Homo sapiens: one gene and its partners. The protein of the gene in region 7 purifies or fractionates together with the protein of the main gene of each other region. This does not show direct contact. Each region holds a gene or a part of one and is shown on either strand. Other genes may lie near its edges.

What was found.
Region 1: the proteins of KRT2 (region 7) and MPHOSPH9 purify together in Homo sapiens (affinity purification with mass spectrometry; one large-scale study listed by BioGRID and IntAct). This does not show direct contact.
Region 2: the proteins of KRT2 (region 7) and ZNF195 purify together in Homo sapiens (affinity purification with mass spectrometry; one large-scale study listed by BioGRID and IntAct). This does not show direct contact.
Region 3: the proteins of KRT2 (region 7) and CEP350 purify together in Homo sapiens (affinity purification with mass spectrometry; one large-scale study listed by BioGRID and IntAct). This does not show direct contact.
Region 4: the proteins of KRT2 (region 7) and ZNF318 purify together in Homo sapiens (affinity purification with mass spectrometry; one large-scale study listed by BioGRID and IntAct). This does not show direct contact.
Region 5: the proteins of KRT2 (region 7) and AQP7 purify together in Homo sapiens (pull-down; one study listed by IntAct). This does not show direct contact.
Region 6: the proteins of KRT2 (region 7) and BLTP2 purify together in Homo sapiens (affinity purification with mass spectrometry; one large-scale study listed by BioGRID and IntAct). This does not show direct contact.

The regions. Positions count from the first base shown.
Region 1 is NC_000012.12:123,153,321-123,157,792, forward strand, and holds the end of MPHOSPH9 (M-phase phosphoprotein 9), read right to left. Parts: intron 4,298-4,472; coding exon of another isoform or gene 4,244-4,297; exon of another isoform or gene 3,595-4,243; intron 3,589-3,594; coding exon 3,487-3,588; 3' UTR 1,111-3,486; coding exon of another isoform or gene 1,105-1,110; 3' UTR 895-1,104; downstream 1-894. UniProt on the Homo sapiens protein: Negatively regulates cilia formation by recruiting the CP110-CEP97 complex (a negative regulator of ciliogenesis) at the distal end of the mother centriole in ciliary cells.
Region 2 is NC_000011.10:3,359,341-3,362,958, forward strand, and holds part of ZNF195 (zinc finger protein 195), read right to left. Parts: intron 3,263-3,618; coding exon of another isoform or gene 3,228-3,262; exon of another isoform or gene 3,206-3,227; intron 2,550-3,205; coding exon 2,403-2,549; intron 1,449-2,402; coding exon 1,380-1,448; intron 1,226-1,379; coding exon 1-1,225. UniProt on the Homo sapiens protein: May be involved in transcriptional regulation.
Region 3 is NC_000001.11:179,960,779-179,965,536, forward strand, and holds part of CEP350 (centrosome-associated protein 350), read left to right. Parts: intron 1-4,758. UniProt on the Homo sapiens protein: Plays an essential role in centriole growth by stabilizing a procentriolar seed composed of at least, SASS6 and CPAP. Required for anchoring microtubules to the centrosomes and for the integrity of the microtubule network.
Region 4 is NC_000006.12:43,358,774-43,363,531, reverse strand, and holds part of ZNF318 (zinc finger protein 318), read left to right. Parts: exon of another isoform or gene 1-117; intron 118-4,758.
Region 5 is NC_000009.12:33,381,433-33,385,568, forward strand, and holds the end of AQP7 (aquaporin-7), read right to left. Parts: exon of another isoform or gene 3,859-4,136; coding exon 3,573-3,858; 3' UTR 1,759-3,572; downstream 1-1,758. UniProt on the Homo sapiens protein: Aquaglyceroporins form homotetrameric transmembrane channels, with each monomer independently mediating glycerol and water transport across the plasma membrane along their osmotic gradient. Could also be permeable to urea.
Region 6 is NC_000017.11:28,628,159-28,632,916, forward strand, and holds part of BLTP2 (bridge-like lipid transfer protein family member 2 isoform 1 precursor), read right to left. Parts: intron 4,082-4,758; coding exon 3,891-4,081; intron 3,762-3,890; coding exon 3,662-3,761; intron 3,524-3,661; coding exon 3,321-3,523; intron 402-3,320; coding exon 107-401; intron 1-106. UniProt on the Homo sapiens protein: Tube-forming lipid transport protein which binds to phosphatidylinositols and affects phosphatidylinositol-4,5-bisphosphate (PtdIns-4,5-P2) distribution.
Region 7 is NC_000012.12:52,645,787-52,649,621, reverse strand, and holds part of KRT2 (keratin, type II cytoskeletal 2 epidermal), read left to right. Parts: intron 1-519; coding exon 520-615; intron 616-1,284; coding exon 1,285-1,449; intron 1,450-1,766; coding exon 1,767-1,892; intron 1,893-2,661; coding exon 2,662-2,882; intron 2,883-3,835.

The DNA of each region.
Region 1 (4,472 bases), about 71 Mb from region 7:
CACACCAGAGGGATGCTTAATTTAAACTCCAAAAAAGCTCATTTTTTTGCAAAGCGTGAAGAGAACATCTTAGACCACCTAACAAATGTCAGTCCAAGGCAGTTTTTAGGTCAACTGCTTCGGACATAATCTACTTTTTTATTTCAGAAAGTATGCTACCTCAAGGCTGGGCGCAGTGGCTCACGCCTGTAATCCCAACACTATGGGAGGCCAAGGCAGGCAGATCATTTGGGGTCAGAAGTTCAAGACCAGGATGGCCAACATGGTGAGAACCCCGTCTCTACCGAAAATACAAAAATTAACCAGGCGTGGTATGCACCTGTAATCCCACCTACACGGGAGGCTGAGGCAGGAGAATAGCTTGAACCCAGGAGACAGGTTGCAGTGAGCCAGTATCACACCACTGCACTCCAGCCTGGGCAACAGAACTAGAGACTCCATCTCAAAAAAAAAAAAAAAAAAAAAAAAGGATGCTACCTCAAAAACCTACTTAACTCAATGAATCTGAAATATAATATTTCTTGAGCACTTACTAAGCACCAGGCACTTTACAAAATCTCCCTTAATGAAAGGAGTTTTCTTATTTCATCTTATAGCTGAGAAAGGCAGGCCTGTGCCAGGATGTGACCCAGGTCTCTCTGGCTCCAAGTCTCTCCTTTCTTGTCCCCTGAGCCCAGCTCTGCACAACCCTAGCACGGCCACTTTAGCTACATCTGTTGCTTCAGTTGGAAAAGTCCTTCAGTTGCAAAGACCATTTCCATACCTCAGGAGTAGCTCCTGCAAACAGAGGCTTAGCAAGGGAAAGGAAGGGGGCAGATCCAGGCATCAGGGGAGAGTTCACTTTCTATTTGCATTTTAAAAGGCACTTCCCAGAGGTGGCAGATTTGCTTAGGGTTTTTTTTTTTTTTTTCTTTTTAAACTATTAATACCTGCAGCAAAGCCCCAAGCCAACAACAAAAATAGTTTATACCCGGGGATAATAGCTGCTATTTAGAATTGCCATCTTTCCTGCTTTTAGGTGGAGTGTTTTTTCAGTTGAGTGTTCATAAGATAAGCATTACCGAAGAGAAAGACAGCAGAAAGAACTTTCCTTGGTATCCCTCTTCACAGCTATGAAGAAAAAAGAATACATTTTTTAGAAATAAGTGACTGATAGCTCCAATCTATTACACACTTCAAATATCAAAGCATATGCTGAGAGAGAGGCGCAGAAGATGTTTTGATGGAGGTTAACGCCTTTTTTGGAATAAGCCAATATAGGCTACTAAGAAGATAATTCCTTGGCAAGATAAAACTATCATCTCTTCTGAAATGGCATTTTTTAATTCTTAAGAATGTAGTAGATTTTACAATAAAAGTAGGGAACAAGGAAATATCCTAACAATTTTCAAGTTAGTTTTTAATGTCATATCCAGGAACACATTAAAGGTGGTCTTACTAGGTCTTGACACAAGCTGTACTGGAGCTTGATTAAAATGAACATTTTCTTTACCAAGACTAGATTTTTTTTTTCTAAAGGCTAGAAAACCAAGAATAAAGAATACCAAGAATAGGCCGGGTGTGGTGGCTCATGCCTGTAATCCCAGCACTTTGAGGGGCCAAGGCAGGCGGATCACATGAGTTCAGGAGTTTGAGACCAGCCTGGCCAATATGGTGAAACACCATCTCTACTAAAAAAAAAAAAAAGATATATACATACACACACACACATAGACATATACACACACACAAAATTAGCCGGGCGTGGTGGCAGATGCCTGTAATCCCAGCTACCCAGCAGGCTGAGGCAGGAGAATCGCTTGAACCCGGGAGGCAGAGGTTGCAGTGAGCTGAGATCATGCCATTGCACTCCAGCCTGGGCAACAAGGGCAAAACTCCATCTAAAAAAATAAATAAATAAAATAAAATAAAAATAAAAAACAAGAATAAAGGCACTTGATTCTAATTATAAGTAATTTTGATTAGCCTGAAGTCTTCAAAAGTTGCAGAGTAGGGAGCAAAGGTTCAACTGCACTGTCAGACAGGCCACCCTCCTTGCTGAGAAGGGAGCAGGGCTGTGGACCCCTGGCCTGGGGACCAGCCAGGTGAAGGGTGCTCAAAGGTCATTTGAGAGCCTGCTTGGAATAACTGGGATGGCTTGGTTCATTCTAACTACTTATTATTAAGAGCCACATAAAGAGGAAAAGCTCAAAAGCAAACCAAAATTTAAAACCTGAGCATGTTTAGTACGAATCCATTTTGAAAGTTTGGATGAGTCTGTTTATCAACATGTACCGAGCTGGAATATGTGGGGCACTGCGTTCTGATTGGCTACCAAAAACTAAGTAGTTACACAGCTCCAACTTAACCAGCAGTCCCAACACAAACCTGCCAATGCTCCTGGATCAGAGGAGAGACTCCTGCCCACGTGCTACTTCTGAGAGCCAGCGGCTACCACAGAGGCAGTGGGCTGGAGCCCTCTGCAAGGCCGAGGGGAAGGCACCAGGCTCCATCCGGACACACTCCCTGTCCATTAACAAATACAGTAGATTGTGATGATCTAAAGTCTAGTGTTCTTACAGCACCTACAGTGGAAATATTTTCCTTTTGGCCAGGGTGAAGGAGTGGAAAGGGGTGAACATATCCAGATGACAACTATGACGGACAGCTGAAGCCATGCACACTAAGAAAACCAGGCTGCCCTCTTAATCCCTCACGGGGTGGTGGCTTGTATTTCAAAGGGTTTATCTGTCCATTTATTGTCCAGGGTGGGACACAAGTTAATTCAGAACAATGGGCAGAGAGCTACTCTGAGAGCCCTCCAGAGAGGGCTCTCCAATTGTTTAACTTTTTTAGAAAAGATAAAATTAGAGAATTACAATCTCTCTTTTTTCTCTTACAGACAATAAAGTTTAAAGAAAATGAGTTATATTCATGTAGTTTTCAAAGCTTTCCAAGAGTCCATTATTACTATTCTGATATTCACTCTAAGACACGTTTCAAATACGAATTGCATTATCATTTTTTAAAAACCTCAACACAACTGAAATCCAAGGTACACTGTAATTGTTTATGTATTCAGCATGTACTAGTCTATCATTATGGAAGCTATTAAGCTTTATTTTTTAAAAACTGAATTGTATTTACAATGTAGAACAAGTCTATAAAATTGATGTGCAGTTAATTGTAAAAGGATAACACTATTTGTTTAGAAACAAGCTGCTTCCTCTGTTTATATTTCCTTATTCTTGATATAAATTGGAGACAGATACTATTTAAAAATAATGCTTTTTAAATAGTAAAATATACAAGAGATTCCTGAGCATAACAAAAATATCTTGAAAATATGTGGCCATTTGAAGTATAAAATAGCAAGTGTAAGAATAGCATGATTGTAAAACTACTGTTTGAAGGCTTATAAACAGTACAAAATAGTTTGCCTTTTCTGACTGCATAATTATACATTAGTGCAAACAAAAATGTCTCAAAATTTAATGGCTACAAATCTCAAAGATTTGCAGAGGTGCGCAAAACATGGAATTTCTTTAGCGTCATGCGAACTGAACCCAGTTCTCGATTAATCCTTTCCAAACGATCTTCCAAGGCTTCCTAGGTGAAAACAATGGGAAAAGTTTAATTAGAATTCTATACCAAGTTCTATAATCACCACCAAACTGACCTTTCTTTTAGCAAAAGAGCAAGTATAAACACTAAAATTACAATTATTTTGCTTTCTACACGAAACATCTTATGATTTCTTTTAAACTGGACAATATGAATTAGCTTTTCAACTATTCCAAATAACTGCTGTACTTTAAAATATTCTCAATATGTTTGACACATTGAGTATATGGAAATTCTAGTAATAGCAATACAACCAACTGGAAGAGGATAATTCTTTGGCTCTGCTGAAGTGAGAACAGTACAAGAGGAGCCTAGGAGGTGCTTCACACATTTCACCAGAAGAAATGGACACATTTGATCAGTGCTGCATCCCACACATACATAGATCAAATAACTTTCTTCTCACCAAAATTTCTAAGTTAAAAAGGAAAAAAAAAAAACACTGAAGGATACTTTTCTTAAAAAAAAAAATAGATTTCACAATGAATTAACAATTGCTATTTTAAAATAAACAATATTACTGTTAAATAATACCTGGACTATATATCATTATACATACTTCTGTGTTTTTGTTGAGACAGGGTCTTGCTCTGTCACCCAAAGCTGAACTGCAATGGCATGATCATAGCTTACTGCAGCCTCAAACTCCTGGACTCAAGCAATCCTTCCACCTTAGCCTCTCGAGTATCTGAAACTACAGGCAGGCACCACCACACCTGGCTGATTTTAAACATTTTTTTTTTTGCAGAGACAAGATCTCACTATGTCACCCAGGCTGGTCTCGAACTCCTGGCCTCAAGTGATCCACCCACCTCGGCCTCCCAAAGTGCTGGGATTATAGGCATAAGCCACTATACCCAGCCTCATTT
Region 2 (3,618 bases), on a different chromosome or scaffold from region 7:
CCACATTCTTCACACTTGTAGGGTTTCTCTCCAGTATGAATTCTCTTATGTACAATAAGGTTGGAGGACTGGGTAAAGTTTTTTCCACATTCGTCACATTTGTAGGGCTTCTCTCCAGTATGGGTTTTCTTATGCTTAGTGAGGTCTGATAACTGCTTAAAGATGTTGCCACATTCTTCACACGTGTAGGGTTTTTCTTCAGAATGAGTTCTCTTATGGTTAGAAAGGCTTGAGCAAGTTCTGAAGACCTTCCCACATTCTTCACATTGGTAGGGTTTCTCTCCGGTGTGAATCCTCCTGTGTTCACTGAGGTGTGAGGACTGTGTATAGGCTTTCCCACATTCGTCACATTTGTATGGTTTCTCACCAGTGTGAATTCTCTTATGTTTAGTAAGGTCTGAGAACCACTTGAAGATGCTGTCACATTCCTCACATTTGAAAGGTTTCCCTCCAATCTCATTTCTCTGGTGTTTGGAAGGATTTGGGCTGTGGTTAAAACCTTTGTACCATGTTTCACATTTGGAGAGCTTCTCTCCAGCAAGAATCATCTGTTGATTAGAAAGGCTTGAGCAAGAGATAAAGACACTGCTGCACTCTTCATATTTGCAGGGTTTTTCCTCAGTACCATGCTCATGTTCAGTAAGGTGGGAGCACTGGTTAAATACTTTGCCAAATTCTTCACATCTGTAATGTTCCCCTCCGGCATAAATTCTATTTTTAGTAAGGACTGAGCAAGTTTTAATGACGTTGTTACATTCTTGACACTTGTAAGGTTTCTCTCCAGTGTCAATGTTCTCAGGTTCAGTAAAGTGTGAGCACTGGATAAAGGTTTTGCCACATTCTCCACATTTTTGGAATTTTTTTCCAGTGTGAATTTTCTGATGTTCAGTTAGGAATGAGAGCATTTGAAAGGATTTGCCACATTCTTGACATTTGAAAGGTTTCTCTCCAGTATTACTTATATTACGTCTATGTAAATTTGAAAAGTTATCAAAGATTTTAACATATTTATTATATTGAAAGATTTTGCTATGGGTAGTTGATGAACATTGGTTAAGTCCATTATAATCTTTTTGCAACTTACACTCATCTAAACTTTCCCAGTCTTTCCTTAAATATAAATTATCAAGGCCACAATTTCCATATCCTCTCAGTATTCTTTTTGGGAATGCATCTTGTATGCCCTGCTCTGGCAGAAGGTCTTGGGTAAAATGAGAAGACATAGCTGAAAAAAAAAAAAAAAGTTATCCGACTTACTAGACACAGATGAATACACTTTATGAATCTAATCTATAAAATAATACTGGGTACATTAGCAAAATGGCATAAAAAATACCACAGGCCCTAATTTCTGTATAAACATATAAATGTAACAATACCTAGTGAGAAGATGCATCTGAACTCTAAAAACCATTTCACAGTTTGCAGCACCCCAGGTGAGCACAGTGCTAGGAGCCAGATAAGAAGAAAAACAGTCTGTTACGTTTACCCACTGCAGCCCCCGCTCCTCCGCAGTATAGCATCATGCCTTTAAGAGTACACCCTCAGCTCTTGGCTTCTCCTTCAAAAGAGAAAGCAAATACTGGCACAAGTGTTTTTACTTTTGGCCTTTTGAAGCTTTGGCAAAGATTGGTTTCTGCCCCCTGTGACACGGAGTGCTGAGAGAAATGGTGGTACTCTGAGTGACAGGCTGGGTCTGCTGAGACCGAAAGGAAATACCCATGACAGCGGTAGGAAGGCTGCAGCAGCAGCACCAGGCGACAAGTGTATTGTGTGATTCCAGGGCACTACAAAGAAAGCTGAGAAACCCTCTTTAAATGAAAAATACACACACAATTCCACACAAGACACATCCCAGAACAGGCTTAAGAGGCCTCTAGAATCTGGGCCTATTTGTTTTAGATGACCCCAGGAGAAAGGCACATTATAAAGGTTGTGGCAGGAGGCTTGTTGTTAATGCCTGAATCTCAGTCAAAGATGACATGTACAAAGTATTAGGGTCACATGGCATAATCAAAGAAATAAAAAAAGTTCAGAAATCAACCCTAAAATGATGGAGATGCATAAATTAACTGAAGAAAATAAAATTACCATTTGAATAATGCTCAATGAGTAAAAATGGCAAAACAGCAAACTAAGTAAAATTAGGAAAATAAGGATACCAATAAAAAGACATGAAGTATGAAAAACAGACTGAGAAACTGAGGTATGAAAGGAAATAATTACTGAGAAATTCTCAAAAGTAAGAAAAAAATACAAAAAAATCAAGAAGCTCAACACATCAACTAGTATAAACAAAAAGGGACATAAGACACATTATAACCACAGTTTCCAAAGTCAAAGGAGAAAAGAATCCTGAAAGCAGCAAGTGAAAAGCAAGGTACATGCTCTTAGGAGATTACCAGTGAATTTGTCCACAGAAACATTGAGGCCTGGCTGGGCACGGTGGTTCACACCTGTAATCCCAGCACTTTGGGAGGCTGAGGCAGGCAGATCGCTTGAGCCCAGGAGTTCAAGACAAGCCTGAGTAGCATGGTGAAATCCCATCTCTACAGAAAATACAAAAAAATTAGCTGTGTATGCTGTTGCACACTTGTAGTCCCAACTACTCAGAAGGCTGGAGTGGGAGAATCACCTGAACCTGGGAAGTGGAGGCCGCAGTGAGCCACGATCACACCACTGCACTTCCAGCCTGAGTGACAGAATAAATCCCTGTCTCAAAAAAAGTACAACCTGAAGCAAGAAGGGAATTGGATGAGATAGTCTAATTGCTGAACACAAAACTTCCAAGCAAGAATAATATAACCAGTGTCCTACAAAATCATAAAAAATAAAGGCTTTCTAACATAACCAAGGGCTACATTACCACTACACATGTCAAACAAGAAATGGTAAAAGGAGTCCTTTCCACTGAAAATAATGCGATGCTATAAAATAATATATAATCATATCAAAATAAATATATGGAAAAGATACGCATATACAGAAAAATAAAATTCTGTGGTACTATAATGATGGTGCAGAAATCACTTTTAATTATTATCTAAAATTTGAAAGATGAAAGTAGAAAAATAATCATAAATAACTGTTAATGGATATACAACATTAAATGATTTAGGGATATCAGTAACAAAGTTGAGGGCAGATTTAATAAGAAAGAATTTTTGTATACAACTAAAGTTAAGTATTTACCAGTGTAAAATACCTTGTTGTAACTTTAAGATGTTTTATATAATTTCCATGGTAACCACAAAGAAAATACCTATAAGACACACAAAAGAAAATTTAAAAAGAGTCAAAGCTTATTATACAAAGTACAAGACACAAAAAGGAAAGAGAGAAAGAAAAAGCTACAAGAATCAAGTAAAAAAAATACAATGGCTAAAGTACATCTTTTCATTTCAGTAAATTGCTTATTTAGGAACTAAACTACTCAATCAAAAGGCATATGCTAAATAATTTAAAACCAAACTAAGATCAAACTACAGCTGACCTACAAGAGATTCACTTGAGATCTAATGACAAAAAGAGACTGAAAGTGGCAAGATGGAAATAGACATTTCATGCAAATGTTAATGAAATGAGAGCAGAAGAGGTTACAATTGTATTATGCAAAAT
Region 3 (4,758 bases), on a different chromosome or scaffold from region 7:
ATAAAAATATTTATTTCAATTTATACATATTTATTTTTCGATCTGCTACTAAGTTGGTAGGCTATAAATACTTTTTAGGTTGTGGACTGAACTACTTAGTAAATGGAACTGTTAGGTATTTTTTTGGCCTAGGGGTTCCATGAAAAAAATAACTGGCATACTGAGGGGTCTGTGAACTGAGAAAGTTTAGGAACCTCTTGAACTTTTGACCAGGACACCTATATATATTTTCCATGTTCTGTGCTCCCAAAGGTTGATTTTTTACATTTATCTTTATTTTTTATTTTTTTAAATAAAAAGAATAGATGTGTGTTATACGTGTATGTGTATACATATAATGAATCAAAAGTTTCACTTTTCAAAGTTTTACTTTAAACAGCCTCATGGCCAGGCGCGGTGGCTCATGCCTATAATGCCAGCACTTTGGAAGGCCGAGGTAGGCAGATCATTTGAGGTCAGGAGTTCAAGACCAACCTGGCCAACGTGGTGAAACACCATCTCTACTAAAAATACAAAAAAATTAGCTCGGCGTGGTGGCGCGCACCTGTAATCCCAGTTACTCAGTAGGCTAAGGCAGGAGAATCACTTGAACCTGGGAGGTGTAGGTTGCAGTGAGCCGAGATCGCGTCACTGCACTCCAGCCAGGGCGACAGAGAGACTGTGTCTCAAAAATAAAATAAAATAAAATAAAGCGCTCACTACCTTCAATACACTTGATATTTGCAAATCAATCCTATTTAGTTCCATTAAAAAAATGCTAGCTCCAATCCACGATATTGTTTTGTTTTGTTTTAATCTACTAACGGGTCATGACTACACACTTGATAATATGATGCTGGTTGACTCCTAACGTCCAGCTTTAATACGGTTTGTTTCTCTGGTTAGTTATAAATGAAGTTAGACTACGCTTTAGCTTTTATTTTAGATTTGGGTTGTGGGGGATACACGTGCAGGTTCGTTACATGGGTATATTGCATCATGCTGAGGTTTGGGCTTCTGTTGAACCTATCACTGAAATAGCGAACATAGTACCCAGTAGGTTGTTTTTCAACCTTTACCCCTTACCTGTCACTTCCCACCTTTTTTTTTGAGATGGAGTCTCTGTCACCCAGGCTGGAGTGCAGTGGCTTGATCTAGGCTCATTGCAACTTCTGCCTCCCAGGTTTAAGCGATTCTCCTGCCTCAGCCTCCCGAGTAGCTTGGACTACAGGTACGAGCCACCATGCCCGGCTAATTTTTTGTATTTTTAGGAGAGATGGGGTTTCACCATGTTGGCCAGGCTGGTCTCAAACTTGTGAGCTCAAGTGGTCTGCCCACCTTGGCCTCCCAAGGTACTGGTATTACAGGCGTGAGCCACCACGCCCGGCCCTTTCCCACTTTTGGAATCCACAGTATCTTATTTTCATCTTTATGTCTATATTTACCTATTGTTTAGACCCCACTTACAAGTGAGAGAAGGTGTGATATTTGATTTTCTGTTTCTGCATTAATTTGCTTAGGATAATGACCTCCAGCTGCATCCATGTTGCTCCAAAGGACATGATTTCATTCATTTTTATGGCTACGTAGTATTCCACGGTGTATATGTACCACATTTTCTTTATCTAATCTACTGTTTTTTGTTTGTTTGTTTGTTTTGTTTTGTTTTTGAGGCAGAGTCTCGCTCTGTTGCTCACGCTGGAGCGCAGTGACGTGATCTTGGCTCACTGCAACTTCCGCCTCCCGGGTCCAAGCAATTCTCCTGCCTCAGCCTCCTGAGTAGCTGGGATTACAGGCACATGCCACCATGCCTGGCTGATTTTTGTATTTTTAGTAGAGATGGAGTTTCACTATGTTGGTCAGGCTGGTCTCAAACTCCTGACCTCATGATCTGCCCACCTCGGCCTCCCAAAGTGCTGGGATTACAGGCATGAGCCACTGCTCCCGGCCTATCTGATCTACTGTTGATAGGTACTTAGTTTGATTCAATGACTTTGCTGTTGTGAATAGTGCTGTGATAAACATACTAGTGCAGTGTCTTTTTGATAGAATGATTTCTTTTCCTTTGGATAGATACCCAGTAGTGGGAATGCTGGGTCTAATGATAGTTCTAAGTTCTTTGAGAAATCCCTCTACTCTTTTCCACAGGGGTTGAACTAATTTACATTCCCACCAGCAGTGTATGATACTCCCTTTTCTCTGCATCCTTGTCATCTGTTATTTTTTAACTCTTTAATAATAGCAATTCTGACTGGTGTGAGATGGTATCAGTGTGGTTTTAATTTGTATTTTATTGATGATTAGTGATTCTGAGCATTTTTTTCATATGTTTGTTGGCCACTTGTATGTCTTCTTTTGAGAAGTATCCGTTTATGTCCATTGCTCACTTTTTAATGGAGTTATTTTTTTTTTCTTGTTCATTTGTTTGAGATTCCTTGTAGATTCTGGATCCTAGTCCTTTGTCAGATGTACAGTTTGCAAATATTTTTTTCCCATTCTTTAGGTTACCTCTTTACTTTGTTGATTCTTTTGCTATGTAGAAGCTTTTTAGTTTAATTAAATCTTGTTTATGAATTTTTGTTTTGTTGCATTTGCCTTTGAGGTTTTAGTCATAAATTCTTTGCCTAGGCCCATGTGCAGAAGAGTTTTTCCTAGGTTTTTTAAAATAGGATCTTTATAGTTTGAGGTTTTATGTTTAAGTCTTTAATACGTCTTGAGTTAATTTTTGTATGTGGTGAAAGGTAGGGGGTCCAGTTTCATTCTTCTGCACATGCTAGCCAGTTTTTTTGTGTGTTTTTTGGGTTTTTTTTTCTTTTTAGCACTGTTTATTGAATAGGTGTCCTTTCCCCATTTTTGCTTTTGTCAGCTTTGTTCAAGATCAACTGGTTATAGGTGTATGGCTTTATTTCTGGGTTCTCTATTCTGTTACATTGATACAGATGTCTGTTTTTGTATTGGTAACATGCTGTTTTGGTTAGGATATCCTTGTAGTATAGTTTGAAGTTGGGTAATGTGATGCCTCCTGCTGTGTTCTTTTTGCTTGGCTATTCAGGCTCTTTTTTGGTTCCATATGAATTTTAGAATTGTTTTTTCTAATTTGTGAAAAATGATGTTGCTAATTTGATGGGAATAGAATTTTTGGATTGTTTTGGGCAGTATGGTCATTTAAATTTTGATTCTTCCAATCCATGAGCATGGAATGTTTTTCCATTTGTTTGTGTCATCTGTTATTTCCTTCATCAGTGTTTTGTAGTTCTCCTTGTAGAAATCTTTCACCTCCCTGGTTAAATTTATTCCTGGGTATTTTATTTTTCATGTGGCTATTATAGATGGGATTGCATTTTTGATTTGGTTCTCAGCTTGAACATTATTGGCATATAGAAATGCCACTGACTGTTGTAAGTTGATTTTGCATCCTGAAACTTTACTGAAGTCTTTTTCTTAGGTCTAGGAGTTTTTTGAAGGACTCCTTAGGGTTGAACAGAGATAATTTGAGTTTCTCTTTTCCTATATGGATGCCTTTTTTTAAATTTTAATTTTCTGCCTGATTCCTATGGGTAGGATGGAAAGTATTATGTTGAATAGGAGTCGTAAGAGTGCACATCCTTGTCTTTTTTCAGTTCATAGAGGGGATGCTTCTAACTTTTGTCCATTCAGTGTGATCTTGATTTTTTGGAGTAGTTTCAGTAAGATTGATACCAGCTCTTCTTTGTTTGTCTGGTATAATTTGGCTGTGAATGCATCTGATCCTGGTCTTTTTTTGGTTTGTAGATTTGTTTTTATAACTGATTCAATTTTGTAAATTGTTATGATCTGTTCAGGATTTCAGTTTCTTCCTTGTTCAATCTTGGGAGGTTGTGTGTTTCCAAGAATTTATCCATTTCCTCTGGTTTTTCTAGTTTGTGCACATAAAGATGTTCATAGTAGTCTCTGAGGCTCTTTTGTATTTTTGTAGTATGAGTTCTGTCACCTTTGTCATTTCTGATTATGCTTCTTAGGATCTTCTCACTTTTTTTTTTTTTAATTTACTTAGAGGTTTATCTATCTTGCTTATCCCTTCAAAGAACTAACTTTGTTCTGTTGATCCTTTGTATGTTTTTTTTGTTGTTGTTTGTTTGTTTGTTTGTTTTGGTCTCAATTAATTTAGTTCTGCTCTGATCTTAGTTACTTCTTTTTTTTCTGCTAGCTTTGGGTTTAGTTTGTTCTTTTTCTGGTTCCTTTAAGTTCAACTTTAAGTTGTCAATTTGATATCTTACTGTCTTTTTGATGTAGGCATTTAGTGCTGTAAACTTTCTCCTTAACATTGCTTTTGCTGTATCCCAGAGGTTTTGGTATGTTTGTTTCTCTATTTTCATTTGTTTCAAAGAATTTTTTTATTTCTGCCTTAATTTGTTGTTTAACCAAGTTAGTTAGGAGCAAGTTGTTTAGTTTCCATGTATTTGTGGTTTTGAGAGTTCCTTTTGGTATTGATTTCTAATTTTATTCTACTGTAGTCTGATAATATGCTTGACATGATTTCATTTTTTAAGAATGTATTGAGACTTGCTTTATGACTGAGCTTGTGGTCCATCTTAGAGAATGTTCCATGTGCAGATGAGAGTGTATATTCTGTGATTTTTGGGTACAGTATTCTGTAGAAGTCTGTTAGGTCCGTTTGGTCAAGTGTCTAAGTCCAGAGTTTCTTTGTTAGTTTTATGCTTTGACGTTCTGTTTCTAATGTATATAGGCACATACATTTACAAATGGAAATCTCCTTTATAGATGTAAATTTCTTTTACA
Region 4 (4,758 bases), on a different chromosome or scaffold from region 7:
CCAGCCCCTCCATGGAAGCCACCACGGTTTCCCATCCCAGGGCCCCCGGGGCCTCTGCCCCCGCCCCACCCCCTCCACCGACATCATCTGCCATTTGGTGTTTTCTCAGAGAAGAAGCAAGGCAAAATAGTCTTATGTCATATAACATTGAAGCTTCTAAAGGGCTTCAAGATATGTGACTGTATCACTTAATTGAGGCAATAGCCCTTGCTCTTCTGGCTGCTTCTGTTTGGGGAAATTATTGAGTAGGTAGTCTGGGTAGGTGGTACATAGTGTGATTGTCTTCATTCTTTGCTGAGGTTTTGAGTTAGCTTCAGCAGTTCTTCTTAGGCCTAGGATGTCACTTCCCCTTTGCATAAACTTTGTTATGCACATGTGCTTCAGATAGAACTAATTATATTTTTAAATTACAAAAATTAAAATTTTTCCTCTTAAGGAGTTTGGGGCAGCAGTCTTCTTTGTAGAATCATGTGTTTCAGAGGCACAGGTCTACTTTAGAGAAAGTGAGATTAAGGTTCTAAACAAAGATACAAGGCCATTTAAAAAATACTGTTGCCCCCTACACATTTCTCTTCTTTCCCTTTTGTTCAGTATGGTTTGTGTGGATAATTACTGTCCACTAAAACCAGGCCACAGGACCATTGGCATACTCAGGTTGTCTCCTGACAGTGAGTCTAGTCTTCAACCAATGATACAGGCCATTTATATCCTTTGTATGTAGATGTTTGGGCCTGGCGCAGTGGCTCATACCTGTAATCCCAGCACTTTGGGAGGCTGAGGTGGGCCAATCACTTGAGGTCAGGAGTTCGAGACCATCCTGGCCAACATGATGAGATCCTGTCTCTACCAAAAATACAAAAATTACCCAGTGGTGGCGCATGCCTGTAGTCTTAGCTACTCCAGAGGCTGAGGCAGGAGAAGCTTGAACCTGGGAGGCAGAGTTTGCAGTGAGCCCAGATTGTGCCACTGCACAGAACAAGACTCTGTCTCAAAAAAAAAAAAAAAAAAAAAAAGACGTGTATGTAGATGTTTATTTTTTAAAAATTCATTTATTTTTTTATTTTTATTTATTTATTTTTTGAGACAGAGTCTTGCACTGTTGCCTGGCTGGAGTGCAATGCTGCAATCTCGGCTCACTGCAACCTCCGCCTCCCAGGTTCTAGCAATTCTCCTGCCTCAGCCTCCTGAGTAGCTGGGATTACAGGTGCGGACTACCATGCCAGGCTAATTTTTTGTATTTTTAGTAGAGATGCGGTTTCTTTGGCCAGGCTGGTCTCGAACTGACCTCGTGATCCGTCCACCTTGGCCTCCCAAAGTGCTGGGATTACAGGTGTGAGCCACCGCGCCTGGCCCCTTTTAAATTTATTTTTAAGAGACAGGGTCTCACTCTTGTCACCCAGGCTGGAGTGCAGTGGCACGATCATAGCTTAGTGTAGCCTCTAACTCCTGGGTTCAAGTGATTCTCCTGCCTCAGCCTCCCAAGTAGCTAGGAATACAGGCACACACCACCCGACGCCCAGCTAATTTTTCAAATTTTTGTAGAGATGGGGTTCTCACTGTGTTGCCTAGGCTGGTTTCAAACTCCTGAGCTCAAGTGACCCTCCTGCCTCAGCCTCCCAAAGTGATGGGATTGCAGGCATGAGCCACCATGCCTGGCCAGATGTTTGTTTATTTTTTTTCTGAGACTCTAGTAGTCTTTCTCTTCCTTTATTGAATCTGTTAAGTTTTATATCAGGTTTGGATGATAGCCAAGTTGGGTTTTAGTGTCTTCACCTTAGCAGCCCTGTATGTAGGACTGTAATTCTACTCAAAAGGGAACATGAAAGGTAATGTGAAAAATTCTAAAACACTTGGCTTCTAAAGACTTGTGGATGTTAGGTTGATTTCTCCTGTTCATCAAAGTAATTTGCACATTTAATGTTCCATTCATGGAGCTATTTATTTAAAAAAAATTATTAACTTTTTAAAAGACAATGTCTTGCTCTGTTGCCCAGCCTGGAGTGCAGTGGCGTGATCATAGTTCACTGTAACCTCAAACTCCTGGGCTCAAGTGGTCCTCCCAGCTCAGTCTAAAGAGTAGCTAGGACTATGGGCTGCACTGCCACACCTGGTGAATTAAAAAATAAATTTTTAGAAATTGGGTTTCTATCTATCTGTGTTGTCCAGGCTAGTCTCCTGACCCCAAGCAATCCTTCTGCCCTGGCCTCTCCAAGTGCTAAGATTACAGGTGTGAGCCATTGTGCCCAGCTTATCGCCTAATTTCTTCTCCTTATTCTGACAGATTGAAGGAGTGGGATTTTTTTCCCTCTGATTTTCTTTAGGGAATAGAAGCAAACAGCTTTCTTGGGGCATTTTTGGGACTCATCAACAGAAAAGAATGGAGAGTTTAGGCTCTGAAGGACCTTTTAAAATATGTATACATTTTTAACAGCTTTATCGAGATGTAATTTGTATACTATATAATTCACCCATTTGAAGTGTACAGTTCAGTGATTTTTCGCATATTCAGAGTTGTGCATCCCTCACTACAATCAATTTTAGAACATTTTTATTACACCAGAAAGAAGCTCTGTTCCTTTAGCCATTACTCCCTCCACCCTACCCCCAGCCATAGGCAATCACTAATCTACTTTCTGTCTCTATAGATTTGCCCGTTCTGGACATTTCATATAAATAGAATCATATAATATGTGGTCTTTTGTGACTGGCTTCTTTCACTTAGCATATTTTTTTTTAAGGTTCATCCGTGTTTGTAGCATTCCTTTTTATTGCTGATAATATTTTATTGTATGGATATACCATGTTTTGTTTATCCATTCATCAGTGGTGAATGAATGGATAACATTTTGATTCTTTTCACTTTTTGGCAATTATGATTAATGCTGCTCTGAACATTGGTATAAAAGTTTTTATATGGACATACATACATTTTTTAAAAACTTGTTTAACAGAGATTTGTAAACACAAAAATGTAGAATAGTACAGTGAAACCCCATGTCCTTATTACCTAACTCCAACAATCAGTTTTTTTAAATAGATAGACTTTATTTTAGAAAACAGTTGAACTTAACCAAGGCTTTCCGGGAGTATCCATCGCTGGACTCTTTCAGGGTATAGGAGATTGTACCCTTTTTAGGGTTCTTACTACAGCCAGTTCTCTTCTCATATCCTTTTGGAGTCCTGGGGAAGGAGGACATGAGCTTCTAATAAGCAACCTGATTTCTGCCTATATGTATGTGATAGCTTTTTTAAGAAAACTGTTTTTATGCCTTTTTTCTGTCTCTACTGGAGATTCCAAGTCTGGACTACAGCTTTTTGAGAGCCATCTCATTTGTAGCTTCTTGATAGTTAGTACTGGTTTAGACCTTGGGCTAGTATGCCGTTTCATGGTGACATGTAATAGTTCTGGTGGGGAGCTGAATGTGGGAGTGTGAATGAACTTGCCACTCCTCATGGAGCCTATGTTTTTTCTCCCTATACTAATATGGTCAGAGACTTTTTGTATGGTAGATGGTGTTTTGGCAATGGAGTGACTCAACTCATGAACATTCCTCTCTGGAAATAGGTGTGTTTATGGCTGACAGACCTATAGAGAAAAATTTTTACCTCAGTTTGATTTCAGAAATCATCCTTGGTTTATTCCCATTTATTCCTATTTCATACTGCATTGAAACCTCAAAATTTCCCAAATTCTTAGGAAGAAGGTGGGTAACAGAAACCTGGATTCCCACAGGTGGCATTCTTGTTAGAGAAGGTAAATAAAGTTTGTCCTTGATAACCTTTCATAAATTTATTCCTAGGTCTACAACTTTGATCAAAGGCAGGCTGGTGAATAAGAAAAGGCAATGTTTTGAGATTCTGCTGGCATAGTCTCAGAGATAGGAAAGCAACTACTAAAAAAACTAAGGAAAAGTCATTTCTAGAAACTCACAACAAAAGTAGCTACTAGAAACTGTAGAAGACACTAATAGTTACCATCCTCTAGATGATAATTCACTCTGGAATGTGAGTGACATGTAAGAACTTTTATTTTTTATTCAGAGTACTTAGAAGTTTTCATACATAAAGTGCTAGAGGATCTTTATTTCTATCTGTGATTTAAATCAGAAACTTTAGTTTTGTGTCATAGCCATAGCCCCTGAGAAGGTTAGCATTATTGGGTGTGGTATAGAATTCTCAGCTAAAAGAATAGCTGTCCCATCCTGGATTTTTACCTCATGCCACAAAGGTCTGAGACCTTTGTATTTAATGAAATAAAAATATATGGTGAACCAAACCATCACTTTCTCTTTTCTAAGCCCAAGATTAGCAGAGTGCTTGTAGATATCCAGAGAAGGCAAAGAGGGTGACAAAACAGGCTGTGAGAGAGCTTTATGGGTTTTAATATGTGAACCATCAAGGCAAAGCATTGGAGAACCTTCTAAATCTTATGAGAAAATCATGCTAATTAGATAAATCAGTAGTTTTTTTAAAAGTTACCATATAGTGATACTTTTTTTTCCCAATTGAATTATTAGAACCTTAATATACAGACTTAAAGTTGGAATTAGTGTGATTTAACTGGGATAGAAGGTCAAGAGCCCTGCTGGTTCTGCTTTTCTAGTACCTCCTTTCTTTTGGTAGCTCCTGAGCACTCTTTACAACCTCTGGAACACAGCTTTAAAACCATTTATCTGAGCCACGTGTGGAGGCTCACGCCTGTAATCCCAGCAGTTTGGGAGGCTGAGGCGGGCAGATCACCTGAGATCAGGAGTTCGA
Region 5 (4,136 bases), on a different chromosome or scaffold from region 7:
CCTCTCTAAGCTGTAACTGAGGCCTTGGGACCATGCTGCTCTGGAATGCCAACAATGAGAAAGGCTCACAGGGCCACTGAGCGTGAGAGGGGGGAAGGGGCTTGTAGAAGGTTACCGAGGAAGGCTACTGTACAGCTGGGGACTTCCAGCTGTGGGCCCTTCCCTGGTCACTCCCAGCCCTGGTTCCCCTGGCTCGGCTCCTCCCACCGTGGGACGTCAGATACAGTCATCCTCCCTGGATTCCCTGTGATCTCACCAGGCTCCCACCTGTTACCCCTCCCCTCCCCCTGGCGCCCCCCACTCCGCCCCCCAACTCCGCCGTCCTCACACTACAGCTATTCCTTCTTTGTGTTTTTAGATATACCTACATACTGGCCAGGCGGTGGAGCTCACGCCTGTAATCCTAACAATTTAGGAGGCGGAAGCGGGTGGATCACCTGAGGTCAAGAGTTTGAGACCAGCCTGGCCAACATGGCGAAACCTGGTCTCTACTAAAAATACAAAAATTAGCCAGGCGTGGTGGCGCATGCCTGTAATCCCAGCTACTTGAAAGGCTGAGGAAGGAGAATTGCTTGAACCCAGGAGGCAGAGGTTTCAGTGAGCCGAGATCACACCACTGGCACTCCAGCCTGCATGACGGGAGAGAGACTCCATAAAAAAAAAAAATATATATATATATATATATATATATAATATATATATCTCATACAAACAATATGTATCACATTTATATGTTATCAAGCACGATCATGTAATAAACCCGCAAATGTCCAAACCCAAAACTAGAAAATTATTAATAGTTTGTACTACTCCTGTGTTCCTCTCCATCTGCCTGTAGGAATTATTTCTTTTTCTAAAATAGTTTTCTTACATACATATATATAGCAAAGAATGTATTTTTGCTTATTTTTCAGCTACAAGACTGGTGTCACACTGTATATAGTCTACTGTATTACTTTGTTGTTGTTTTTTTTGAGGCACAGTCTCACTCTGTCACCCAAGCTGGAGTGCGGTGGCACAATCTCCATTCACTGCAACCTCCGCCTCCCGTGTTCAAGGGATTCTCTCCTGCCTCAGCCTTTTGAGTAGCTGGGATTACAGGTGCCCAACTACACCAGGCTCTTTTTTTTTTTTTTTTTTTGAGACCGAGTCTAGCTCTGTCGCCAGGCTGGAATGCAGTGATGCAATCTTGGCTCACTGCAACCTCCGCCTCCCAGGTTCAAGCAGTTCTCCCGCCTCAACCTCCCGAGTAGCTGGGACTACAGGTGTGTGCCACAACACCCAGATAATTTTTGTATTTTTAGTAGAGACAGGGTTTCACCATGTTGGCCAGGATGGTCTCGATCTCTTGACCTCGTGATCCACCCGCCTTGGCCTCCCAAAGTGCTGGGATTACAGGCGTGAACCACCACGCCCGGCTACTGTATTACCTTTTATGCCTCCAGAATTTTTCTGTGTTGTTGCAGGTGTCTGTTGTGCCTTAATTTTTGCTATTGTAGAGGGTTCTATTATGTGCAATTGCGCAGCAGTGTATGTATCTGTTCCCCTGTGGATGGACATTTGGGTTGTGTCCAGTGTCTCTTGACCACCTACCTTGTGCCATGCCCCCAACCCTCCTGTCATTACTCCACAATCTAGCTACATCCACAAAGCCATGACTTCACGAAACCCTGTCTTCCGCTTCTGAGCTCCAGACCATATAAAAGGCATAACTGTGTTTATTGAGCACTTACTCTGAGCCAGAAATGATTCTCAACATTTTACATGTGGTAGCGCATTTAATATTCACAGCAACACAAATGGGAAGTAATATTCTTATCGCCATTTTACAAATAAGAAGACCAAGGCCCAGAAGGGTTGAATATCTTGCTCAAGATCACACACATTTTGCCACCCCCCATTCCAAGTCCCATAGGCAACTCAGACTCAGCATGTCCATGATGTAACTTATCTTCCTCTCCAAACCATTTCCTCACTTGTGCCCTACTCTCAGTGGGGACATCTCCAATCCCCAGGCCCAAGCTGGAAACCGGAAGCCATTTCTGACTCCTCCCTCTCCCTCACCCACTCCATCCAAATGGAACCCAAGTCCTGTACATTGTACTTCTCCGGTATTGATCAATCCCCGCTCTCGTCTCCACGCCCACGGTGCTGACCCATTGTTAGGTGCCCGGCTGCTGCTCCTGGGTCATCACTTTCGCAGGCCCATCTCCACCATTTCCAGCATCCTACACACTGCGGCTCAGGTGTGCTTTCTAAACCTCACCTCACCGTGTCCCCACCTCCAGAACGAAGCCCAGCCTCCTCTGCCCATCCCCTCAAACTGTAAAGTGCAGCTCCCACCCCCAAAAAGGACACCCCCCACCACCATACCCTGCTCTGTCTCCTCCTCTGGGAAGCCTCCTGGCCTTGGCCCAGAGGCTGGATGTGAGCTCCCCTACCCCGAGCCCCACAGCCTCCAAGCCTCCCACTCTGCACTCACCTTCTTCCATATAATTACCTGTCCCCCATTAAACTGCAACCCTCAAAGGCAGAGCCCAGCGCATCCACTGCGCATCCCCAGTGTCCAGGCAGGGCCTGCACACAGTAGATGCACAATAATTATTGAAAGGCAAAATGCATGAGCAAGGACAGGAACCATGGGTGATGCTGCCTTCTGAGCCCCAGGCAACAGAGTGATTCCTGCCTGGCCCCAGGGTCAGTGGATCCTGGCCCCTCACCCCACCCAACCTCTGCACCTGCTTCCCTGGAGCCCTTGGAGCCCTATGAGGCCTCTTCCTGTGTCTTCATGTGGTCGAAGGATTTCCCTCTTTGCATCTTCCTTTCCTATTCCTTCATGTGGGAGCACTCTGGCACCAGGAAGAAGAAAGAGGAGCCCAACCCCTTAACAGCCTTCAATCTATAACAAGCATTCTCAAGGGAATTAAAACTGATTCTTAAAAGGGGAGGTGAAAAAAAAATCTTACTCTTTTTTATGTATAAAGCACAGAACATATACAGAACATAAACAGATATATAGTACATCTGTGGTATTAAAATTTCATGTGATTAAGAAAAAAAAAATCTAGAAGAATACTAGGGAAGGAACTAATGAAAAAAAGGCTAAAAAATTCTGATCTACATTCTTGGGCCTTGCCTTGTCTGGTCCAAGAACCGGCCAGAACTCAGGGAAGGGAAGAACCAGGGGAGAGTCTAGAGTCCAATCTCAGGATCCCCTCAAAGTATTTCCAAAGCCGGCCCCCAACCAGTCAGCTACGGTCTGTTCCCCAAAACCACCCTTCCTTCCCCCGTGCCTGAAAATCCCTCATTCTGTCGTTCTTTCATCTCACCCTGTTCCTACTGAGGGCGCAGGTCATCTCTTCCCCATTCTCCCCCTGGGGCACCCCAGTTCCCAGGGCATGAAAGACTTGAGGTGCCTCACCTCTACACCTTGGGCTAAGACATAGCCCTGGAGCTCCTGTAAGAACCCAGGAGGGAAGCCCAACCACAGGAGGCCCCCAGGAAGTGGGGGTACTGCTGTCGGACAAGCCTTGCTTTATTGGGGAATGGATGGGATCACAAATAATCTCTGCTTAGAAGTGCTCTAGGGCCATGGATTCATGTAAGGGTGGGGCAGGGTGGACTGAAGATCTGTTGGCAGGGCTCACAGAGACGGGGGTGAGGGGAGAGATCGTGGGTTCATGAGATCCCATCTTGGGCAATACGGTTATCCCGTGGTCTTCATACGCCACAGAATCCTCCAATTTCAGGGGCTCCCGTGGGATGGTGGAGCCAATGAAGACCAGGTAGATGATGCCACCTAGATAGGCACCCAGAAGTGGTGCCACCACTGGCACCCACCACCAGTTCTCCCCATTGCTGCAGGCAAGAGGCAGAGGCCTGCTGAGGGGGCTGATGCCCAGGACAGCACCCTCATCCACCTCGGGCCAAGACAGGTTGAGCAGAGGAGTCATCCCCAGGCTACCCCAGGAAACACCCCCAACCCAGGGCCCTGGTCAGCCTCAGCCCAATTCAGGGACAGCGTTGACACTCAGTGCAGGTGCAGGATCTGTATCTGTACTGGCCTGGGGAAATGTTGGGACTCACTCCTGCTCCCCAGGCTACCTGGGGGCTCAGCAGGACCCTCCTGTGCTGCC
Region 6 (4,758 bases), on a different chromosome or scaffold from region 7:
TTTACCTAGATAGAAGCACCATGACTCAGTCCTTTTAAAACTCCTGTCCAAGCCCATATCCATGTTCTAAACCCAAACCCAAAAAGTCTCATCTCCCCGAGCTTACCTCCTGATGACCCCTTATCAGGTTGTCCACTGAAGCTGGGAGTGTTAACACGAGGTGGGGCTGAGGCACTAGTTGGGACACCCCGCTTTGGCTTTTTGGCTGGCATCTGTGGATCAATCTTTAACCCCTTCAGGGCCTCAGTAGAAAGATTACGTTTGAGTACAGCTGCCTTTTTGTACCCATCATATAACCCAAAGGCAATGTCTCGATTGGTAGTTGTCCAGGAAATCCGTAAATCTACTAAGTGCAGCTGATGTGTATGAAAGGTAGGATCCCCATCACGAGCAGAGAGCTCCTAAGAAACAGGAAAAGGACTTCAGGGTAGCATGGAAATTGCCCCCAGTGCCACAGAGGCAGTGATAAAAGTTTGTTGAATAAGAAACCTGTTGGCCAGATGCCATGGCTCATGCCCGTAATCCCAGCACTTTGGGAGGCCGAAGTGGGCAAATCACGAGATCAGGAGTTTGGGACCAGCCTGGCCAACCTGGTGAAACCCCATCTCTACTAAAAATACAAAAAATTAGCTGGGCATGGTGGCTGGCACTGGTAATCCCAGCTACTCAGGAAGCTGAGGCAGGAGAATCGCTTGAACCTGGCAGGTGGAGGTTGCAGTGAGCCGAGATCACACCACTGCACTCTAGCCCAGGCGACAGAGAGAGACGCAGTCTCAAAAAAAAAAAAAAATTCACTGGGCGTGGTGGGGAGACAGACCCTGGAGAAGAAAAACTAAGTGGTCTTGGCTTTTATATTATATTACATTCAAACTATACCTACTGTATTTTATTCTTTATCAAAAAACGTTTTCAGAGTTCCTCTAAAATTTTTTTTTTAAGAAATGGAGTCTATTTTGTCCAGACTGGTCTTGAACTCCTGGCTTCAAGCAATCTTCCTGCCTTAGTCTCCCAAGTAGCTGGGACTACGGGCACAAGCCACTGTGCTGGCCCATTTTATTTTTTAAATATATTTATTTATTTTTATTTATTTATTTGAGACAGAATCTGGTTCTGTCTCCCAGGCTGAAGTGCAGTGGTGTGATTTTTTTTTGAGACAGAGTCTCACTCCATCACCCACGCTGGAGTGCAGTGGCATGATCTTGGCTAACTGCAACCTCTGCCTCCCAGGTTCAAGCGATTCTCATGCTTCAGTCTCCAAGTACCTGGGGATTACAGGTATGTGCTACCACACCTGGCTAATTTATTTATTTTTTATTTATTTATTTATTTATTTTTTGGAAACAGAGTCTCACTCTTGTCGTCCAGGCTGAAGGCAATGGTGCGATCTCAGCTGGCTGCAACCTCCACTTCCCGGGTTCAAGCGATTCTCCTGCCTCAGCCTCCCGAGTAGCTCGGATTACAGGCACCTGCCACCACGCCCAGCAAATTTTTGTATTTTTTAGTAAAGATGGGGTTTCACCATATTGGCCAGGCTGGTCTCAAACTCCTGACCTCAAATGATCCGCCCACCTTGGCATCCCAAAGTGCTGGGATTACAGTCGTGAGCCACTATACCTGGCCTAATTTTTGTATTTTTAGTAGAGACAGGGTTTCACCATGTTGGCCAGTCTGGTCTCAAACTCCTGACCTCGACTGATCCATCTGCCTCAGCCTCCCAAAGTGTAGGGATTACAGGTGTGAGCCACTGCACCCAGCCTTAATGGTGCAATCCTGGCTCACTACAACCTCTGCCTCTTGGGCTCAAGCCATCCTCCTACCTCAGCCTCCTAAATAGCTAGGACTACAGGTGCATGCCACCATGCCTGGCTAATTTTTTTGTATTTTTTGTAGAAACACGGTTTCACCATGTTGCCCAGGCTGGTCTGGAACTCTTGAGCTCAAGGGATCCACCCACCCTGGCCTCCCAGAGTGCTGGGATTACAGGCATGAGCCATCACACTTTGCCTATTTATTTCTGAGATGGGGTCTCACTCTGTCACCCAGGCTGGAGAGCAGTGATGCGGTCATGGCTCACTGCAGCCTCGATTTCCCAGACTCCAGCCATCTTCCCACCTCAGCCTCCCGAGTAGCTGGGACCACAGGCACATGCCACCACACCCAGATAATTTTTTGTATTTTTGGTAGAGACAGGGTTTCCTCATGTTGCCCAGACTGGTCTCAAACTCCTGAGCTCAAGCAATCCACCTGCTTCAGCCTCCCAAAGTGTTGGGATTACAGGCATGAGCCACCTGAGCCCAGCCCCCACTGTTTTTTTTTTTTTTTTTTTTTTTTTGTATTTTGGAGACAGCATCTTGCTCTGTCACCCAGCTTGGAGCGCACTGGTGTGACCTCGGCTCTCTGCAACCTCCACCTCCCGGGTTCAAGAGATTCTCCTGCCTCAACCTCCCAAGTAGCTGGAACTACGGTCATGTACCACCATTCCCAGCTAATTCTTTTGTATTTTTAGTAGAGATGGGGGTTTCACCATGTTGGTCAGGCTAGTCTTGAACTCCTGACTTCAAATGATCCATCCGCCTTGGCCTCCCAAAGTGCTGGGATTACAGGCATGAGCCACCGCACCCAGCCCTCCCCCACTGTATTTTAAATGACTTGAGAATTTCAACTTAAAATCCTTCCCTAATTGGGGGAAAGGCAGTACCAATTTTTTTTTCAGTGTTAGGAAAAAATTTTACTCTATTTCCTAAAGAGTAACATACTATTTTTAGGAGAGAAAGAAAAAGTATTTTCAAAAAGAAGGATGCTGATACAGCTAAACCAAATGAGTTTGTCATAAAGTAATGACATACATGCTTGGAATATATGAGAAACCTTACCAGGGACTTAATCTGCAACCTACTCCTATGGACTTTACTGTGTTCCCCCCAAATTCATATGTTGAAGTCCTAACCCCCAATGTAACAGTATGTGGAGATGGGCCTTTGGGAGGTAATGACATAAGGTCACGAGGGTGGGGCACTCATGACAGAATTAGTGCTTTTACAATAAGAGAAACCAGAGCACTCGTGCACACTTGTGCTCTCTCTCCCTCTCTGCCATGTGAGGACAGACACAAGGCAGCCATCTGCAAGCCAGGAAGACAGCCCTCACCAGAACCCAACCATGCGGGCACCGTGATCTTGGACTTCCCAGTAGCCAAAACTCATAAATAAATTTTTGTTGTATAAACCTCCCAGTCTCTGGTATTTTGTTATGGCAGCCCAAGTAGGCTGAGATACCTACTAATATAAATAAGGTAATAAAGAAAGTGTGTCAGGGAGTACCTCCTCAGCTGTGCGATTGCTATGCCGTTGGTAGGTGAGGGAGGACAAGCTCAGCAGGTGGGTCTTTGTTACCAAGGGATCAAGACAGTGATCAGCATTCTCTTCAGTGGGTGAGGCCATCAGGTGAACGGTCACCTGACTTAGGTCACTCACCATCTGGGTAACACTCCAATCAGAGATAAGGCGCCGCATCACTGTGCCTGCTGAGAAAAAGAGGCACACAGAGACCATGCTGACCAGTTCAGAGGATAGTGTAAGACAGAGATGGAGGAGGGGAATGGAACTGAGAAGGGAAAAACAAGGAACAGGATAGGAGAAATGAAAGGAGTCTTTCATTTTACCTTGAGGTATAAGCCGCTGAGTCCCCCGAGTGAAGACATGGCCCTGACTGCACTCAATCTGGATGCCCCGTTGCTGGGCAAATGAGGCCCAATAATGTACCTGGCAACAAGAGAGCATAACATTAACAAAGGATGGCATGAGAGGGATGATTAAGGGACTCAATATGAGAAACAAGAAAACTAGAAGCAGAATAAAGTGAAGATGTCAGCAGGGACATCAGTGCCTTACCTGCAGCTGGGGAAAGAGGGCTGTATAGGAAAGTTGCTTGTAGTGCTGACCAAGTTTCTTCTTGCTGGGTTTCAGGTTATTGAAGAGCTTTCCCCTGCAGATAGGCCTTGTGACACTTGTCCAAGTTGCCCAGAAGTTTTGCATCCAGCGCAGGGTACTACTATATAGCAGAATTCGGGGCTGGGATATTGCTGCAAAGAGAAAGACAGACATTTCCTAGTTATGGATGAAACACAGAGGTAAAGCTAAATCCTTCCCTTGCTGCAGGTTGTAGAGGTTTAAAAATCCAAAATCCAAACAGCACCTAGCCTCACATTCAGCATCCCCAACTCCCTCTTCTTTCAAGGATCTAAGCTCTCTGCTTTCCCCTACTGCTATGGTCTAAATGTTTGCATCTCCCCAAAATTCATGCTGAAATACCCCTAAGGTAATGATGTTAAGAGGTGGGCCTCTGGGAGGTCACTAGATCATGACGGTGGAGCCTTCATGAATAGGATTAGTGCCCTTTTAAAAGTGGTCCAAGGGAGCTCACTGACTCCTTCCACCATATTAGGACACAGCAAAAAGGCACCATCTATGAGGAATGGGCCCTCACTGACACTGAATCTATCAGCTCTTTTTGATCTTCGACTTTCAAGCCTCCAGAACTGTGAGAGATAAACGCTTGTTGTTTATAAGCTACCAAACTTGTGGTATTACTGTTATAGCAGCCAAAAAGGACTAAGACACCAACCCTTTCCCCTGCCAAAAAACAAAAAAAAAGGTCCTAACCTAGATTCTCCCTTGCCCTTCTCCCCTCCCCTCCCCTCCCCAGAGGGTCAAGCTAAAGTCCCCAGCATCCATGCCCGTCCTCCCAAGCCCTTCCTCC
Region 7 (3,835 bases):
TTCTAAAGAGCTGAGGAAGGAATGGGACTTCCCTTAGAATGCCTGCTTAAAGTTGCTGTTGGTTGTGCTGACAAAGGTTTGAGGTTGTAGGCCAAAAGCAAGGGTTCTCCTGCTGGGTCCTGCAGGGCCTTTGGTGTATATTCTGGGGAAATTTCGGAGAGGTGAGATGGACAGACGGGATGAGAGAGCTGAGGACTGTGGAAACCCACAAAGAACATCGTATCCTGTTGTAGAAACACACAGTGTCTCAAGCAGGAGAGAGGGGCTGGTTGGCAAAGCTTGGTCATCTCGAGGCTCTGATGGTCCTGAGGGCTGTGAGCCATGGACGTAGGCATGAAGTCCCTGGCAGAGGTGTATGGTAAACTGCACGACAAAAGAAGTCCCATGGGGACAGGGATCAGGTTGGGGAGCCTGGGATTTTAGAGAGGAGCCAGCAGGGACTGAGTAGAGGGGAGTGGCAGAGAGAGGAAGAGGCCTGTACAGGGAACCATACACCAGAGGCCTCAACCTTTCTTGCAGGACGTGGACAATGCCTACATGATAAAGGTGGAGTTGCAGTCCAAGGTGGACCTGCTGAACCAGGAAATTGAGTTTCTGAAAGTTCTCTATGATGCGGTAAGGAGGCTGCTCCGGGACAGTCCCTTACTTCCCACCCTTCTCACCAAATGAAAGTCCTTTCTGCTTGGTGAAAAAGTGGCAGAAGTGGGGTTTATGGACCAGCTGACTTCAATCTGCCATCATTCCAGGCCACTGGGGGGGCTTTCATAGCATAGGTCTTGTGGGTGAGGAATTTTCTCCTCCGATGTTATGGGAATAAGGTTCAGGAAACACCAGGACAGCTTCCCCTCCCTCCATTCCCCAGATGTCCATTTCCCCTGGGGAAGAGACAAGCCCTGTGCCCATTCCTGTGCCTACTGTACTTCAGAGGTCAAAATGCATTTGTCTCCTATCCCCCTCCCCAACCCAAGGGTGCACAGATGATTTCTGAAACAGGAAGTCCATTTAAGGTATTTGCCATGGACAAGCTTCTGTCTGGGGGCACTTACCATAACTGGCTTAAGTGCTGAATGTTAACTAGGAGGCTCAGAAATACAGGTGCCTCTCACTACAATTCTCAGGACAACCTTGGGAGAGGCCCAGGAGTAGACGGTTACATGATTTTCATCCCACCTAGTGTATGCTTAGTCTGAGGGTCTGCGTTTCCCTTATGCTGGGAGACAGAGGCCTCCTGTCTGCCTGTAGCTATGGCAGGATGTCATGACCAGACCTTCCTGTGTGTTGTAGGAGATATCCCAGATACATCAGAGTGTCACTGACACCAACGTCATCCTCTCCATGGACAACAGCCGCAACCTGGACTTGGATAGCATCATCGCCGAGGTCAAGGCCCAGTATGAGGAGATCGCCCAGAGGAGCAAGGAAGAAGCGGAGGCCCTGTACCACAGCAAGGCAAGTAGAGGGAATGTAGGAAGAGCCACAGCTCCCTGCCATGAGCTGGGTTGCACCCCCAGCTGGAAAGTGTACAGTAAGGTTATTGGTTTTTTGTTTAATGGTAGTTGGGCACCATTCCCAAGAAAGGATGTTGAGAATGGCACCAAGTCCTTTTGGGCATGTGAGACAGTCCCTACCTCTCATGAATGCAGCCATGACATTTAGCTGGGTTGACCCTCCCTGGACCAGTAACCAGCTCTCCTTCACTCCAGTCAGTCTGGAATGTGAGCCAGGCTGGAACTTCCTTGCAAACTGTCCTCTTCTCCCCATATCAGTATGAGGAGCTCCAGGTGACTGTCGGGAGACATGGAGACAGCCTGAAAGAGATCAAGATAGAGATCAGCGAGCTGAACCGCGTGATCCAGAGGCTGCAGGGGGAGATCGCACATGTGAAGAAGCAGGTGAGGCCCAGCCCTGTCCAGCGAGGGGCGGGAGGTTGTCTCTGGGTGTGCGTGAGAGTGTGGTTGTGTGTGAGTGTGCATGTGAGAGATGAGAGACACTGAGATATTGCACTCTAGCATGTATCGATCCCAAATTCCCCAGCTTAACATAATTTATGGCTTATTATAACAATTCTTAGAGTGCTCTAATAGACATTCCAAAGTAAGGATTATCGAAGGGAAAGAATTGTGCTCACTTGTTTATATGAGGAAAAGGGAGTCATAACAAATAGAGCAAACGTTAGTTTGATTGATTTGCTGCAGATTGCCGATGGAGCTTCCCGTTTGTGCTCAGCACAGGCCCTGAGCACCAGCCGACTGGTTTCATAGAGGGGCAGTGAGTATTGAGGGCAGCTGGCCTGGGGCTGGACGTTAGCTTTGGAATAGAAAAGGTAGAGGCAGAGAGTGGATTCCATCAGCAGCAGAAGCTTTGCCAAGCAGACCATTTCAAATGTTTTCATTTCCATCTGTAAAATGGGATCATGATTCAGGCCCTGTGATGTGAGGATCAAAGGGCACTATGGGGAAAGCCAAAGGGTGTCATCAACGGTGACATGGGAAGAAGATGTGCCAGAGACAGCGGCAAGTCTTAGCACAGTTGTTTGCGACTAAACTCCAGAGGGGACCTAACACTCCCAGGGCCAGTGGTTCTGGCTTCCTGCACTTCGAACACCTCTGCTCTCTGTCCGCCTCCGTCAGGCAGAATCCATTCTCTGTCCTTCTGTCATAGTGTAAGAATGTGCAAGATGCCATCGCAGATGCCGAGCAGCGTGGGGAGCATGCCCTCAAGGATGCCAGGAACAAGTTGAATGACCTGGAGGAGGCCCTGCAGCAGGCCAAGGAGGACTTGGCGCGGCTGCTGCGTGACTACCAGGAGCTGATGAACGTGAAGCTGGCCCTAGATGTGGAGATCGCCACCTACCGCAAACTGCTGGAGGGCGAGGAGTGCAGGTGAGGGCACTGGGAAGGGAGAAGGGGACCCTGGCCCTTCCTCTCATCTCTCCCAGAGCCAGGGCTGGAGGCAAAGACAGGGAAAGCAGAGAATGGGGCAGGCCCTCCTGACAACTGAGAACTGACATTCTCTGTGTTCCCCAAGCAGAAACTCAGGACATAAAGCATGATTGGAGAGTTACACATTTATCAACATGAAATGATGCATAAGGCACATTAAATTAAACTAAGCAGTAAGTTAAACATCCTGGTCTTTTCTGAAAGAGAAAACAAAATCATGGGAAAACAGGTTAGTCCTAGACAGTCTGAAACTTTGGTCTCTAGGTCCATAGGGTGAGTGGCTTCTGTGCCCTCCACCGGGTGACCCAGAATGGGGGAGATGATGTCTCGGAATGTGCTGACTGGTGGGGACGTGCTGACCGGAGCAGGTGCCAGCCCCAGTTCTTTGCAGGTTTCTGGAGTGACAAATGGAACCATTTGCTAACTTTCAAAGAGGCACCCTTTGCTTCCTCTGTAGTCTGAGACCTTTGTCCGTATTATCAGCATCTTGGGTGACTTAATCTGGCTGAAGCAATTGGAAGGGGAAAAGCTACCCCAGGCCATCAGCAAGCCAGCATGACAAACAGGGAGTGGCTTTCTTCAGGAGGTTGCTCTGTCCCTGTCTAGAGGCAATGCCTCCTATGCCCAGCTTGTAAGAGGAAGTGGGAAAGTTTTCAGTTGAAGCTGAAGAGGGTGGGAAGAAGAGAGGAATGGGGAGGCTCTACAGAGTCACAGTTCTTTCTGAACTGAATGTTCACAGGCAGCCTCATTGTATAATTTCTGATGTGGCATGGATTCTGAATAACAGACTCTCCAAGATGGATTTAAATACACAAATGGGTTGCAAAGTAGGAAGTGAATTTGCTTTTCAGTGACCTTGGATCAACCACGCAACTGTTCATTTTTTATCAGAG